2 separate regions of the Homo sapiens genome follow, and region 1 is linked to region 2. Evidence: fine-mapped expression QTL. Tissue or cell type: whole blood. Region 2 holds a variant in brackets; the other region holds the start of a gene. All regions are shown on one strand. Distances are between the middles of the regions.

What was found. PIP is the estimated chance that this variant, and not a neighbour inherited with it, causes the effect.
Region 1: SNHG5 starts here. The variant in region 2 is fine-mapped to the expression of SNHG5 in whole blood (INTERVAL, PIP above 0.99).

Annotation. Positions count from the first base shown.
Region 1 is chr6:85,674,231-85,682,541 of GRCh38, reverse strand. It overlaps SNHG5 (small nucleolar RNA host gene 5), which reads left to right and starts at 3,809. Exons shown (of 6, transcript NR_003038.2): 1 at 3,809-3,848; 2 at 4,354-4,406; 3 at 4,510-4,588; 4 at 4,667-4,747; 5 at 5,050-5,118; 6 at 5,351-5,535. SNORD50A (small nucleolar RNA, C/D box 50A) reads left to right here and starts at 5,174; the gene lies at 5,174-5,248. SNORD50B (small nucleolar RNA, C/D box 50B) reads left to right here and starts at 4,883; the gene lies at 4,883-4,953. RefSeq lists enhancers at 3,839-3,998, 4,169-4,228.
Region 2 is chr6:85,465,550-85,473,860 of GRCh38, reverse strand. NT5E (5'-nucleotidase ecto) reads right to left here. Exons shown (of 9, transcript NM_002526.4): 2 at 6,579-6,801; 3 at 2,436-2,624. Among named protein-coding and RNA genes, the nearest start is that of NT5E, 20 kb to the right of the region's middle. RefSeq lists an enhancer at 8,028-8,117. The variant G/A (reference allele first, on the strand shown) is at 3,458.

The sequences.
Region 1 (8,311 bases), 210 kb before region 2:
GGGAGGCTGAGGCAGAAGGATCACTTGAGCTAAGGAGTTCCAGGCTGCAGTGAGCTGTGATCACACTACTACACTCCAGCCTGAGTGAGCAAGACCCTGTCCGTATAAAAAAGAATAATAATAACATGGAAGGTTTTTTTTAAAAAAGGATTGGACTGTATATCACATATGTAGTACCTCTCTTACCCTAAGACTGTGGTTCTCAAACATCTATATGAATCACCCTACACGTGTGCTGTCCAATGCAGCGGCCAGCCACATGTGACAACTGAGCACTTGAAAAGTACAGACCACGCATGCACGTAAATGTTCATTGCAGCACTATCCACAATAGCAAAGATATGAAATCAACCTAAATGCCCATCAATGACAGATTGAATAAAGAAAATGTGGTACATATATACCATGGAATACTATACAGCCATAAAAAAGAATGAGATCATGTCTTTTGCAGGAACATGGATGGACCTGCAGCCATCATCCTTAGCAAACTAATCCAGGAATAGAAAACCAAATACTGCGTGTTCTCACTTATAAGTGGGAGCTAAATGATGGGAACTCATGAATACAAAAAAGGGAACTACAGACACTAGGGCCTCCTTGAGGGTGGAGGGTTGGAGGATGGAAGGGAGCAGAAAAAATAACTACTGGGTACTAGGCATAATACGTGGGTGACAAAATAATCTGTATAAAAAAATCCCTGTGATACGAGTTTACCTATATATAGCAAACCTGTGCATGTGTCCGCGAACCTAAAAGTTAAAAAGTAATAAATGTACAGACCAAATTGAGATGTAAGTAAAAAATACACACCTGATTTCATTTACTGCATACAAAAAACAAATGGAAAATATTTCAATGATTTTTACATTGTTTCTATGTCAAAATAAAAAACTTTGATTATATTTGGGTTAAATAAAATAGATTAGAACTAATTTCATTTTTCTTTCCTTTTTTCTTTTTTTTTTTTTTTTGAGACAGGGTCTGGCTCTGTTACCAAGGCTGGAAGGCAGAGGCACAATCTCAGTGCACAAGCTCACTGCAACCTCTGCCTCCTGGGCTCAAGCTATGTTCTCACCTCAGCCACCACACCCGGCTAATTTTTTATTTTTGATTTTTTTTTTTGTAGAGACAGAGTTTTGCCATGTTGCCCAGGCTGGTCCCAAATTCCTGAGCTCAAGCAATCCACCCGTTTTGGCTTCCCAAAGTGCTGGGCTTACAGGCATGAACCACCACGCCCGGCCCATCTGATCCTTTTTACATTTTAAAAATGTGTGGCCTGGCGTGGTGGTTCACGCCTGTAATCTCAACACTTTGGGAGGCCGAGGCGGGCGGACTACGAGGTCAGGATATCGAGACCATCCTGGTTAACATGGTGAAACCCCGACTCTACTAAAAATGCAAAAAAAAAAAATTAGCCGGGCGTGGTGGCGGGCGCCTGTAGTCCCAGTTACTCAGGAGGCTGAGGCAGGAGAATGGCGTGAACCCGGGAGGCAGAGCTTGCAGTGAACCGAAATCGAGCCACTGCACTCCAGCCTGGGTGACAGAGTGAGACTCTCAAAAAAAAAAAAAAAAAAAAAAATATATATATATATATATATGGCTACTAGTACATTTTTAATTACGTGTGTAGCTTGCATTTGTGGTTCATATTATATTCCAATTGGACAGTATTGCCTCTAATGCTTGTTTAAAATGTGGATTTTTGGGTCCCACTTTTGAACATTATGCTTTCAAGGTTCCAGGTTCGGGCCCAGAAATTTGATATTTTTTAACTTACCAGATTTTAACTGGTAAGTCAGGGTAAGGAATCACTGTTTTATATGGCTTTTGACCAGGTGATGTTTGTGGTCTTCAGAATGGCAGAAACTCTATCTCTACGAAAAATACAGAAAAATTACAGGGCGTGATGGCGCGTGCTTGTAGTCCCACATGGTTGGTGGGCTGAGGCAGAAGGATCACTTGATCCCGAGATTGCAGTGAACAGAGATAGAGCCACTGCACTCCAGCCTGGGTCACAAAGTGAGACCTTGTCTGGAAAAAAAAAGTCATCTATATGTACTGATATGGAAAGATGTTTATGATATTTACAAGACGGACAAACAAGTTGCAGAACATATAGATCCCATTTGTATGTGAAAAACGAAGTACATATATTTGCATTTGCATAGGAAGTCTCAAAAACTGTTAACAGTGGTATTGCTGAAGAGTACAACTAGGGAGAAGATTCCCAGGCATGTGGAAAGATACTTTCACTTTGCTTTTTTTGTTAACTCTTTTTAAAAATTTTTTTAATACAATAGAGACAGGGTCTTGGGCTCAATCCTCCCACCTCAGCCTCCAAAAGTGCTCTAATTACAGACATAAGCCACCACACCCGGCCTACTTTGCTTCTTATATCCTTTTGTACTGTATTGTTTGTTTTACTATTTACTATGAGCAATATGCAAATTTATGTAAGACATTACAAAGTAATACAAAAACCGACAAAATGCCCGGCCCAGTCAATACTTCATCATATAGGTTCCTGTTAGAGAAAAGTGCTTTTCACTACTATCTTTGAATGTGAAGTTTGATCTTCATTCTAATTTTCTAAAAAGCCACCGAATGTATTTGTTCATTCATTCATTCATTTAACCATTACCGACAACCTACTTAATGCTAGGCACTGTTCTAAGAAAAAATAAACAGCAGAGCACGAAATCAGATGTGTTGCTCCCACACTCTAGCAGAATCGGACCGTAATCAAATGCACACATAAACAACTTTAATAAGTAGTGCTTTGAAATATAGAAGTGAAGAACGACCTGAATTTTCAAATACTGAAATGTTCAAATGTCGTGTGCACACACACACACGCAGACATATTCACTCGAACATGCTAATTAATCAAAGCACTGCTTTTGAATTTTGTGTTTGTCGTCTGGATAAAGTATTCAGGGATACTTCTCAAATTAATCTTTCTCTCGTTTTCAATATAACTAATTGAGTACAAAGAAGTTAAAAATTAGCAAAGCATTTCAGCTGTGTGACCTTAGGCAAATTACCTGGCTGTTTTAAGCCTCAGTTTTCTCCTCTGCGAAATGGAGTATTGAACCTCACGTTCGCTGTTTGAGGGAGACTTGTATGGTCACGTTTAGTGTAACCGGATGCCTGGCACGAGGAAGCGTGAGGAGGAATGGATCCCCATGGGGCCTTGATGCCCGCCCTGAGGCCCTGCAGGGCCGCACGCCGGGGCTGTTCTCACGTGGCGCTTTCCGCTTTTTCACCCAAGCGTTTCTGCCAGCCAACTGCCCTTTCCCGGAGTGCTGCGGCCAGGGCTCGCCCGCTCCTCCGGCGGCCTCCGCTGGGGGCCCACTACAGCCCAGCGCCAGCCAGCCAGCCAGCCCAGCTTCTCGAATCGGTCCTAAGCTGAGGCCGCCCTGCGCTGCAAAACTTGTGTCCACTCTCGGACCCAATCTGTCCTGGACGGACTTGGCTCGTGGCAGGCGAAAGCGTCGTTTCCAACTGCAGCTGTTTGAATTCTGGCGCCACACCCGCGCCACGTAGGGCCAAGTCGGCCGCCAGACTCGTAAGAGACGCTTCGCAGTGCGCCTGCGGGCGCGCGCCGGGAAATGGCCGGGCGCGCGGCCGGCCTGCGGCGCGCTCCACAACGCGGAACGGGCCTCAGAAGAGCCACCGCGCGCGCTCCCGCTAATTCGCGACCACACCCCTGTCTACTTCCATGTCCAATAGGTGCGAGAGGGCGGGACGGCCTCGTTCTGACTCCGGGAGGCTATATAAGGAGCTACTGGCTGCGCACTTCGGTCTTTTACGTCGGCCTTCGCGAGCGTCTGGGCGGGTGGTAGGTGAGTGGGTATTGCGGGCTAGTATCCGAGCAAAAGATGGTGGCGCAGGCCGAGTTAAGAGCTTTAATCCTGTGAAGACATCTTAGTGAAGAGTTTAGAGTGCTGAGAGTTGAAAGCTTGCACGTGGGAAACGTGCGGCCGGACTGCCACATGTACTGAGGTTGAGTCGTGACGGCCACAGGCTCCGAGTTTTGGCGTGAGGAACCGCTGATCGGCCACGGGCGCCGAACTTGCTGGCCTCCGGCATGTGCCTGAGCGGCGGCGGAAAAACCACCTTAATTGGGGCGGAGGGTTAGTTTTAACAGCAAAGGGCCTTTACTAAAATGGCGAAGGCCTTCCGTCGGCGTTGTTTTAAAATGGGAAGCCTCGACCCTGTATTGAAACTGAGCTGTTCGAAGGCGGCGTTGTGTGCAATTCGGATTAATGAAGGGGAAGGGTTTTGTGTGGAAAAACGCCTTGGAGTGTGACATTTCTGCGAGAATGCTTAAATACCGATTTCCCGCAGGAACAATGGCGCTGTCTTCAGTGGCACAGTGGAGCAGCTCTGAAGATGCAAAGGTAAGAGCTTAGTTAAGCTTAGTTTCCAAACTAAAGGAGTAAACCTGTTGATTTACAGGAATAGGAACTGTTGCATCGTTTGAAATTTACTTTTTTTTGTTAGATACACGAAAAAACTTCCAGAACATCTGGGAGAATATTTAATGGAAAATCGCTTGGTTAAAACCTGACACTTTTAACAGGTATGTGTTGTTTTAGTACTTTATGATTGAGCATAGCATTTAATCCACACCTAGACTAAATCAAATTTTTTTTGTCAGTGAACAGCGTTCTGAGTGTGGACGAGTAGCCAGTGAAGATAATGAATGTCGAATGTGACTGACTAGCAGCTTCATTTTGAAGTAGGTTGTATGGCTTAAAAGTTCTGTAGTATTTGTACTATAATACTTGCCTTTTAGCATTACCTTGGTTTGTAGTCAGTGTCACAGAAGTGCAGTTTAATGTATTATGTGTACATATACAAGGTCTGATTGGTCTAATCAATGATGAAACCTATCCCGAAGCTGATAACCTGAAGAAAAATAAGTACGGATTCGGCTTCTGAGATTAAGACCAGTAATTCAGAGGTGGAGTAAATTTTGTTGCCGTGATTTTATAACAGTTGTGTTATAAAATCCTGGGTTTTTTTTTTTTCTGCCAACAGTGAGGGTCGCTGTCTGCCCATTGATAGAGGCCAGATTGTCTTGGAAGTTCCAAAGTTGCAACGATTTCTGTAAGTGGAGTTTTTCTGTTTGCTTAGAGATCAGTGAATATTGTGTCCTTGGTCTTATCTGTGATGATCTTATCCCGAACCTGAACTTCTGTTGAAAAAAAAAAACTTTTACGGATCTGGCTTCTGAGATGGACCGTTATAAGGACAATATTTTTTTTTAATACTTTTAATGCTTTTACATATGTTGTAATGTTTGTAGTCTTGTAAGAATCTCGTGTTTTTCCTTTTCTAGGGCTAGTGCCACGAGGTTTACTTGACTGTTGTGTGAAAAGCTGATAAGAAAACCATCCAGAAAAAAGCTCTTCGTTTTACAAACATGAAAATAAAACATGTAATTTTGGATTATGTTCCTTTTTGTTATTACTTTTAAATAGGTCCTGAAATAACATGGGGAGCATTAAATGGAAAATCCACTAACCAGCCTTGTAATCAAATTACTGTGAGTGAATGTTTCGGGTTTGTGCAGGGTACAATGTAAGGGTTTTTGGATCAGTGTAAGAGTGGAGAGACAGGAATTAGAAGTAATTGTTACTAAGCAAATCATGGAATATTTAGTTTTGATGTAACTATAATTTTGAAAGCCTGGATGCTTAAGTTGAGAAATGGGGGAATGAGATACAGAAAATAAGGAGCACAATAGAATAATAATAGCAGTTTATTAAGTATGGTCATGAGGGAAGGTTACTGATAAAACAATCTGGTAAAGACATTCAGGCTTGCTAAAATCTAGGAAGAGGTCATTTGGCAGGATGGGTTACATAATGCTATCTGATACTACCAAATAAAATGAGAGAGAAGCCTTAGGCATGTAACGTTTGGAGATAGAAAATGTACCTTCACTATGAAGGTAGTGTGTGTAAGATGGCAGTTGAAAGCATTGCTTGTGTTTATGTTTATACCCTTGATCTCTGATGCCCTTACCTACCGTACTTAAAACTCTGTTAATCATTGTCTTTCTCCCCCTCCCACAACTTCTGCATAAAATTTTAAGATCTGTGTTTCATTAGTTCAAGAGTGCCTAGAATAGGGCCAGGCACTGTTATACAGTATGTGGTAAAAGACTATTGAGATTCCAGTTTTCAAGGAAGAGTGCCATTACCGTTTTGTTAAAGCTGGCAAACAAGACAAAGTTGTGAAATAGACTGGTTGCTTTGGAGCCCTCTGACCGCTTTTCCTGTAGCTCCTTCTACCTCCCTTGCCTCCCAATAGATTTTTTAATATGTCACATTATCTATCGAAATTAGTACTCCACATTTATATGCACTGGCTTGTGCTAGGCTCTGCCAAGACTCCTGAAATAAAACCGTTTTGTCAACAGTGGCACAAGATGCCAAGGAAAAGTCAAGCTATGAAGGATTCTTGAAAATAGAACAAGTGGATTTGAGTCTAAACCAGCACAGATGTTGGGACAATAGGCCTAAGAAATAACTGAGCAAAGACAGTATGGTTCAGAGTCTGAGACAAATATTGAGGATTTGGGTACCAACAGGGTGGATAGGTGTAGGACAGAAAACTGATGTTATAAATACCCTTAAGATTCTTGAGCAAGGAAGTTACAAATGTAAGACTATTCCTGTAATGAGAGTCAGATCCAAAAAGGTTTAATTTGAATGGAATTGAACTTGAAAGTTCAGTTTCAATTACTGACTCCTTGATGGCAATTTCTAATCACACAGGAGGCTGTTAGTCTGTCATAGCCTCCTAAAATCTCAGGCGATATTGGTTAAGATCAGTTTCCTAAGTTTACCCTCCAGAGCATAGCTGCTGCTTGGGACCAGGTGCAGTGACTCATGCCTGTAATCCCAGCACTCTGCTTGAGCCCAGGAAGAGACCAGCCTGGAAACAGCAAGTTGTCATCTCTATAAATAAGTAAAACTGGGTGTGGTAACATGCGCTTGTTCCAGCTACTCGGGAGGCTGAGATAGGAGGATCACTTGAACCTAGGAGGTTGAAGCTACAATCAGCCATGATTGCACCTCTGTCTTCTATCCTGGGCAACAGACCAGGCTAAAAAAAAAAAAAATCCTTAAGGAGCTTGACTATAATAGACTGGGATATGCTTGATTCTGATTGGTTTCAGAAGTTGAAAGATAATTTACGTGTCTGACTTTAGTGACTTCAGCCAACAGGAATTTTTCCTCTGCCTTACACCAGGCTTCCAGGTAATCTTAAAATACAGTAAGCTCAAACCTACCATTTGGTGCTTTCTAAAATTAGTTCTATTGCCAGAAACCCAATATCCACTGTGCTTGGCTCCCCAGTCAAGTGTCCTGTGAACTAACATCAATCCTCACTGCCCTGTGTATATGAAAGAGCTTTCAGCTGTTTTCATGGTTTTTCTAACAGTTCCCCAGTTGGGATTAGAGCCTTTGTTTGAATCAGCCTACTAGAATAACCTGCTTATCTTTTGCCAGTCCTTTAATAGGAGTGGGACCCTCCTTCCTGCCTTTTCAAAAGCTTGGTTCTGGATCCAAACAATACTTATAGTACTTAGTTATAGGTATATATTAGTATACATGACTTAACTGTCTGAATATTGCCACTGCCTCTGATCTTACTCCATCCTGTAGAGTAACATCTTGTAGAGAGCATCTTGGGGCAGAAGAGGATACATTTTCAGTATGAGAACCAGACTCCTTGTCTTACTCTCATGAGTCCTGGTCTCCTCCTGGTACTACTATTCCACTGCTGAGGTCTCAGCATGCCATATAGCTGAGTTTGTCAGAGTTAATGAGGGTTTAATCAGAATCCCAAATCAAGTACAGTCCAGTCCAACCTATTTGAGAACTTTATCTTTCTTGTTACTTCATTTATTATAGTTCACTTCAAAAGAGCAATGGAAAAGGCACTTCAGAATATGCAAAAAATGTATCATTTGAAGGCAATAATTTACAAATATGCATTACTTCACTGAGATCAGGAAACTTTTGTCCTTGCCTCCTGTAGTGAATATAACTGATGTACAAAAATGTGTACATTTAAAAAGTATACAATTTGATGGGTTTTTCATAGGAATATACTCATGAAACCATCAACATAATCAAGATAATGACTATATCCATCACTCCCAAAAATATTCTATTGTTGGCTTGATTTTGAACATGTTAAGTTTAAATAGCACATGTTATTCAAATTGGGATTTTTGAGTAGGCAGTTAGATATAGAGGTCCACAGTTCAGAGGAGAGGTCTGAC
Region 2 (8,311 bases):
CATCTGAATGAAGGGATGAAACTCCTTTGAGTGTTCATGCATTATTTTGGTCACGTCCCATTTAAAGCTGAGTTTTTAGAAACATGGATTAACTACAGTACAAGAAAATCAATTCAATGAGTGGTAGCTGGCATTAAGTGAATAAAACAGTAAAACAGAAAAGTTGGGGTGCATTCCATGTGCTTTGTGAAAGTTTTCTTTCACTTGTATGTGTTTGCACATACAAGTGCTTTTGCATGTTCGTATGTGAACGCACACACACATATATGTTTGTGTGTTTTGGCTCCCTGTCTAAAATGTTCTTCTTACTACGGGTCATAGTTTAAACTTTTTGAAACCATTATTCTAAAGGAAGAAGGGGGAGGAGACATATCTAGCTCCCACTGTGTGTCCAAGGGTGCTGACACTGCCTCAGTGAAAAGCTAAGGTTTGGGTTTTCACAGGTCTTATCCAGTGAGCCAGCACATAACTAAAATAAGAACAGCTAACATACTAGGCCCTGTGCTAAGGCCATTTACCTATACATTCATTACACATATTAAATCACAGTGACCCCTTATAATAGGTACTGTTGTTATCACCTTCATTCCACAGATGAGGGTAATCAGGCATTGAAAGGACCCCACCATTAGTGGTAGAGTCAGAAGGACTTTGTTGAGTCTTCACCCCTACCCAGTGCTTCCCAGTGACCTGCTCCAATTATTTCCTCGTCTTGGCTCTCTTAGTTCATTTAACCCTCATGGAGTTGTTGAAACTCTTTGATTGCAATGTTATCCATGCTAACAATGTCCAGTGCTAGTCGTCATCCTCATCACATTTATGGATTGTCTGCTATGTGCCTGGGGCTGTTCTTGACATCTTATATACATCTTTTCCCATGGAACAATATTTATCATTCTTATGAGTAATGTAAGTGCCTAATCTATTTTAGTCTTATCTGTCAAAAAAAAAAGCCCTACTACTGGTCATAACCCATAAATTGATTTCACAACCTGTCAGTTTAACTCAGTTTGAAATTATTCCTTAGCCTGTGTTTACCAAGAAGTAAAATATCTGTGAAGGAATTTAATTAGCACACATTCATACTGGTATTTTCTTAAGTGAAGGCCAACTTTAGTTTGTGAGTTATGATTTTGACTGACATATTTTTATAAGCAGGCAACCTCCATGACGCTGCATACCAGAATATAGCTATTTATAGTTTATAAACTGCTTTCACATATTTTTACATCTCATATAATTTTCACAGTAACGTGGAACTTTGAGCATGATCATCCCCTATTTTGAAGCTAAGCTAGCAGATTCAGAGGTGCTAAGTGACCTGCTCAAAGTCATTCAAGTGAATTAGGAATGGGGACTTTTGACCCAATATTGTGTTTCTTTCCTTTTTATAATTTATATTTTGCTTTCCGATTGCAAAAGTAACATGCATTCATTATTTGAAAATACTCCAAAGTACTAGAAAGAAAATAAAAATTACTTTCTTAGTGATAATCCCTTTTAATGTTTTTGGGTATTTCCTACTTATTGTTTGGGGTATTTTGAGTTTCGCTTTTATCAAAATAGCATGGTCTTTGACAGCCCACATAAGGATGGTAGAAGCAGGAGCCTCTTCAAGGGGAGGGCTGTTCCCACGCCAAAGCCTTCTTTGCGAATGCTGATAGAAGAACTGTTTACCAGCCTCTTCTTCCTTTCCTTGGGAATACTTCAAAGATCTATGCAGTGCAAGGTGGGGGAAGTGGGAAAGGTGGAACCAGATTCAAAAGTTTTGGGACATTATAGGTTTAAAGTGGAAAAATCATAAAAGAGTTATTCTGATGAAAACTACTTAACACCAATTTGAGAGAGAAAAAAAGAGAGTGGTGGGGGTAGTCAGGTAGTGGGTAGGAAGAGTGCATGCTCTCCTGAGGACCCAGGGTCATGTGGCTTCCAGGATACTTATATTCCTAGTCTGCAGCAGAGTTAGGACTCACACTCGAGGTCCAGCCTCTGCTACCTGTGCAACCTACAAATCAAATCCACCTTGAGTTATAAAGGTCCTTATTTACATTATTTTGTTTATGCTTAAAGTTTTTATATGACATGTTGCTTTTTGATAAGAATCTATCATAAATGACTTGGTTGGGGCTCAATAGTCTTTTTGTTTTTCATATGTATGGTATATATATGTTTTATACATATTTTATGTCTTATATATTTATTATATACATAAATATATGGAATTGACTTATAATCATGAAATCAATAAATTCTTAGTAATGTTTGTAAGATTTGCACATGTTCCCATTTAATGTATATTACATATATATTATAGATCATATAATATACATTACATATTAAATAGCAGTAAAAAGAGTAATAACAGTTACAAAGGCAAAAGAGACACAGTGCTTATCTGGACATCCTGGCCCATGCAATCCTTTTGAAACAATTACCTGTGTAAAGAAATGTGTTGGAGTGTCCTCCCACCACGACGTCCACACCCCTCACTTTCTGAGCGATGAGTTTATCCATTTCAAAACCCGAATGTCCCAGTGCAATAATTTTGTTCACATTTAGAGTTTTTAACTTATCTACTTCAGGTTGTAATGCAGTGATTTCATCTTCAAACACTAAATTTGTCCCTAAGGAACAAAATAAATAAAATGGATATTTATTAACAATTTTTATTATATTACTTAATATACATATTAACATGCAAAGGTTAAACACCTTAATTTACTAAAGCTCAAGAGTCAGTAAAACCAAAACATATTTATTCATTAAATACAAAACCCCTAAGAAGTAAATAAAAATTCAAATCAATATCCTCATTACATTCACTTTATGTTGTATTAGTTTAAGGTTGTGGATATTGTTTTGCTTGAACTTGGTTGCAAACTGTGAGGAGGCTTCAGATATTGTTTTATATATTTGTACATCTCAACTTCCACAATACCAATGCAGAAAATGCCTAAGCACGTAAGCATGATACACAAAAGAGTATTAGCAACTCCAAGACGTTCGTTGGAAACTTGGGATAATCAGTGTTCAAACTTAAAACTGTCAGCAAGTAGTCCTTGAATGCCTATTTTAATATGGCAGTTGATAACTTTGTCATGTTCTCTTTAATGCCAGCAGGCCAGGCACAGTGGCTCACGCTTGTAATCTCAGTACTTTGGGAGGCTGCAGCAGGCAGATCACTTGATGCCAGGAGTTTGAGACCAGCCCAGGCAAAATGGCGAAACCCTGTCTCTACTAAAAATACAAAAATTATTCAGGCGTGGAGGCACATGCCAGGTACTTGGAAGGCTGAGGCAGGAGAATGTCTTGAACCTGCCAGGCGGAGGCTGCAATGAGCCGAGACCATACCACTGCACTCCAGCCTGGGCAACAAGAGCAAGACTCTGCCTCAAAAAATATATAAATATATAAATAATGCCAGCATTAGAGCATTATTGAGCTCTGTGTTAATCAT[G/A]AGGGCCTCATCTAAATGTTGCTGGCACTGGGATTGTGTACATTCTTCCCTGGGTGCTTATTACTGCACATAGTGGTAACAAACGATAGCCTTTTGTTATCAGTAGTCAAGCATGGCTCTCACTGTGCAACCCAGGTTCTCTGTGTGCAGCAAGGCAACTGGTTCCTCCAACTGGCTCTGTTAGCCACATTTGAGGAAGCTTTGAGGTTTTATGGCTATCACTGGCATGAAGATGACTGCAAATACAGACATGCTGCCCTGAAGTCATGTCTGGTACTCTGTGACTAGGGAGTCCTCCAGTAGATCCAGACGTTCTTACACTGATTTCTAAGAACTAACACTAAACAAGGGAAGGAGGGTGGGAGAATGACATTTCATTAAAAGCTTTCAAAATGCAGGAGTCTGCAAACTCCAGTTTGAAAAGTACTAATCCAAAGAGTAACAAGATTATTAGAAATGCATCCCTTGTTCCACTGTGAGGTTTAGGAATGTCTGTGTGCTTCAGCAGGGGAACTCCTGAATCCTTAACATTAGCCAACTCCACAAGTGCAAATTACCATGGAAGATAATTCATGGCTGACATCATAGCCAGGGAGGCCCCAGAATGACAACCTAATAATTAGCAGCTCACAGATGTGTTGGACAGGCAAGGCTGTCTGTAACTCATAGGCAATGTTGAAAAATCAAGAGTTGTAGTTTTGCCACTGTTGTCTATTATGAGAACATCAAGGACAATCTGCTTCCTGTTGGTTGCCCCAAGAAGCCCAGGGCTCCCCGTTGACCCTCAGTGCTATGTTGCCTTCTATGTGAGCCTTTCCTTGAGCATCTCTTTGAAACAACAAGGTATACCTTCCCCCCTGCTGCACTTGCCATTCCCCTCCTGCTTAATTCTTCTCCACAGCCTTAGCACCTTCTGACATACCAAACCATTTACTCATTTATTGATTCCCCCACTGAATATGTAAGCTCCAGTGGGCAACTTTTTTTTTTTTGGTCAGTATCCCTGGTGCCTAAAACAGTGCCTGGCACACAGACAGGTACCCAGGGGAATGACTAAATGTCGAGAGTATGCTACCATCTTTTGCTTAAGGTATGGCTGCCAAGAAGGAAAAAAAATTCAGAGAAATGCCTCTGAGGACAAAGGAATGTATTCCTCTATTATATCAGAAACCTCACAGGACCAGGCATCCCATATATACAAAGCATGGCTTATATTTCAAGATGTCATGAGGAGAGTTGTATTTCAGGTATTTAATGATCTAGCTAAAATAAATTAGATTAAATGTGCTAGAAATACAGGTTATAACCCTGTGGGTGCCCAGGCCACTAGGACTGGGAGAACTGGGCTTGATTAGGGTCAAAGAACTGTAGGAAGAACCCACACCAGGCCGCTGGGCCTGTAGTCTTGGAAGAAGCAGTGCTCCTGGAAACATTCTATTCCACCCCATCCCTTTCCCCCCACACTGGGCCCTGCAAAATGCAGCCCTCTCTTCCAGCAGCTGCTGGAAACAGCAGTGTCACTTTTGATCCCCTCTCTGTTACAGCCTGGTAAAGGGCTGGTCAGAGTCCCAGCTGGGGCAGTTTGATTTCTGGAGCTGCTGTGCCTTTCCACCAAGACCTGCACCTCCTACCTCCTTATGGGTGCCTTTTAAAGAAGAGACAATGCTTTCCTCCAAATCACACCTGAACTTCTCAGCCCTACAATCTAGCCCTGATCCAACTTTCTAGCTTTTCCTAGTCAGAACCCATGCTCCAGGAAATGGAACTATCTGCTGTTCTGTGACTGTGGCCCCTATACCTTCCTGCTCTCATGTATTCATCCCAGCAATGCTTCCTGAGGACTTATCATATGCCAGGCACTGTGCACAGTCATTGGGCAATAGTGAGACAGCAGAGGTTTCTGTCCTCATGGAGCCTGCATCCTAGCTTGTGACTCTGACCTCACTTCTGGAATGTCCTGTGCCCCAGGGATGTTTTACACAGCTCTCAAGGGGACCAAGGAGGTTCTTCAGCAAGTAAACCTGACCCCAGGGTGGGGTTGGGGGGTTCTTTAGCAAGTTCTCTCACTCTTCTCACTGACCACTCCAGCCCCAGCCGCTCCACCCTGCCTCCAGCTCTGCCTCTATGCCAGCTGCAGGACCCGCTTGCTGCTCTCAGCAAACACAGCTGACTTTTCTGTTGTTGTTTCCAATGGCCTGGACTTATTTATTTTATAACAACAACAACAGTAAATATATATTTTTGAATTGTCAATTATATGTCCTTTATCAGTTAGTTCTTAATGAAAACTCATGTTTCTAGATAACCCTGGCTCCTATTTTCCCTTTTTTTCTTCAAATATGGAAACACATTTAATTTGGATAATTTAAAGAAAATGTCATTTTTGTTCTCATTGCCAAAATATTCCAAAAAGTTTTCTTATAAAAGTGCCTCAAAATAGTTTCTTGAAGGGTCTTAAGATTATATATGTGTGTGTGTCTTATATGTATGTATGTATATGTGTCATATATGTATGTGTGTGTCTTAAGATTATATATATTATATATACATATGTGTATATATGTCTATAAATGTATATACATACACTTATATATATCCATATATATCATAAGACCACTATATATATTTCCCAGAAAGTCAGATACAAGAATGTCATTAAAACGAGATGAATAATGAAAAGCGAGAAAGGTGAGTTAGCTGGACATGTAATAATCATCCTAGAAAAGGAGCAATAAGGTAAATTGAGGTAAAACTCTGGCTCTGTGCTCATGGCTCCACAGGAGAAGGGCAGTGAGTTTTGAGGCTCTCATTCTCTAGTAAATGAAACTGTACTGTTTAGCACTGGCTATACATTGTCTCCTCTTCCCATTTTGAAAGCACTGAATTAGACAAAGATACTGTTTTTGTCAACAAAGAAGTTCACTGAGCAGAAGAGGACATCTCTTTAAGAAGTACCTTGGAACAACAGCATAGAATTTACCAGATTGCTTTTATCAGTGTTATTCTAGTGCACTATTTACCCAGTTGTTCCTACTTTTATCTACAGTCCATAAATATAATGCCAAGCTGTGATTTAGGGCATCTATTTTCAAGCATTGAGTGCTATAAAAGTAGAAAATACCTGGATTTGAGAGAAAAGGGGTTTCTTTGGAAGTGTATCCAACGATTCCCACAACTTCATCACCAACAGGAAGAACTTTATATGGCAAATAAAGTCCTGATATTTGAGATGCTAGTGGCCCCTTTGCTTTAATGTTTGCACTCAGAATTGGAAATTTGGCCTCTTTGAGGAGTGGCTCGATCAGTCCTTCCACACCATTATCAAATTCATGATTTCCCAGTGCCTAGATAAAACAGAAAAGAGAAAAAGAATTAGGTGCTTTAAAAACATAACATTAGTCCAGTATTTCTCAAAACTGACTAAGCTCTATGAGACATATTGCATGATTTTGTGTCCTCCTCACCTGGGTCAGGCCCAGGGACATTCAGATCATCACATTGCTTGAGAATTGCTACCCAGGTGTCACACCACCTAATAAAGGTGGTTTGCCAATGTGCATACGCAACACCTGGAGAGCTGGCCAGGGGTCCACTGTCCCACCATCTCAGATTGGGGGCAGGTTTGAATGTTCACATTTACCAGCCTCTGCCCAATTTTTCCATGTTGTTTTTCTCTCATAAACCCACATTTCAGACCCCATGATTCAAGCCGCGATCTGCTGGAGAGAATGATTAACATCAGCAGGACTTTAGCAAAAGGCAACCTGAAATGTATGGTTGGCAGAGACCAAAGGCCTCCTTCCTCATTTCACCTCCTAGGTCATCATTCACCTAGGTTGCCACAATTGCTTCTTCCCAAGCACTCCTGTGGTCCTCTAATTCTTCTGGGAAAATGAAGTTCCTCAATAGCAGGCAGGAGCTAGCATCTCCATATGTTCCAGTGTGGCTCTGGCTTCCTCCTCCAGTCAGCTCTGGGCACCCTTTGCTCCAGTCCCAGCAGTTTCACATCTGGGGAAGAACTCCATGGTGAAATGATTAGGTGACCTTCAGCGGGTTCTGTACCTGCTCCCAGCGCAGGGCTTCAGGAGGAGCAGGGATGGTGACAAGCAATCCTTGTTTCCCACCTTCTTATCTCTCTCCCATTCCTCACTGGTTGAGGAGTGGCTGCTGGGTACAAAACCACCCATTGTCTGTCATTTTGCAGCTCCCCGTAGTGAGTTGGGGGCTGGGGGGGAGTGGAGGGAATCCATGCAGAGGCCCCACTGACAAAGCATGACATGTCAGCTGGCTTCCCAGAAAACCTTCCTCTCCTTCCTCCATTGGCCTCCTGGATACACCCATCTCCTTGGGCCCCCTACCCTACCTGCTCTGGCTGCCAAGGCTGGTTTGCTAACTTAGTACTTAAACCAGCAAATCTCAGACTTGCTAAATACCACATCCAGTTTCGTTTCACTTTGTGGGTCATCTAGGAACAGGCATGAAGTACTGGCTGGTGACCCGTCCATTTAAATGAGGGCCTGTGCACTCTCTTACAGCCTCACCCTCTTCCTTCCTTGCTCATTCCATACTCTGTAATGGCATGTTAGCAGGATCTTTCTTTTATATCAGTCTCCTGACTATATGAGTGCTCCTGGGCCACCAGGCCCTGCCACCTCTCCTGCTCAGTGCTGTCCCCCTCCTTGGCACGCAGGCATTCACTGAGTACCTGTGCCTGCAAGGGTTGTGTATACATCCTCATGTGAATGTGTTTGTGCAGAGAAAGCACAATGTGTTTATATTCCTACATACTTGTCTCCCCTATTAAATTCAGAATTTCTAAATTTGCCTTTTCCCCCATCTCTGATGATCTCATTT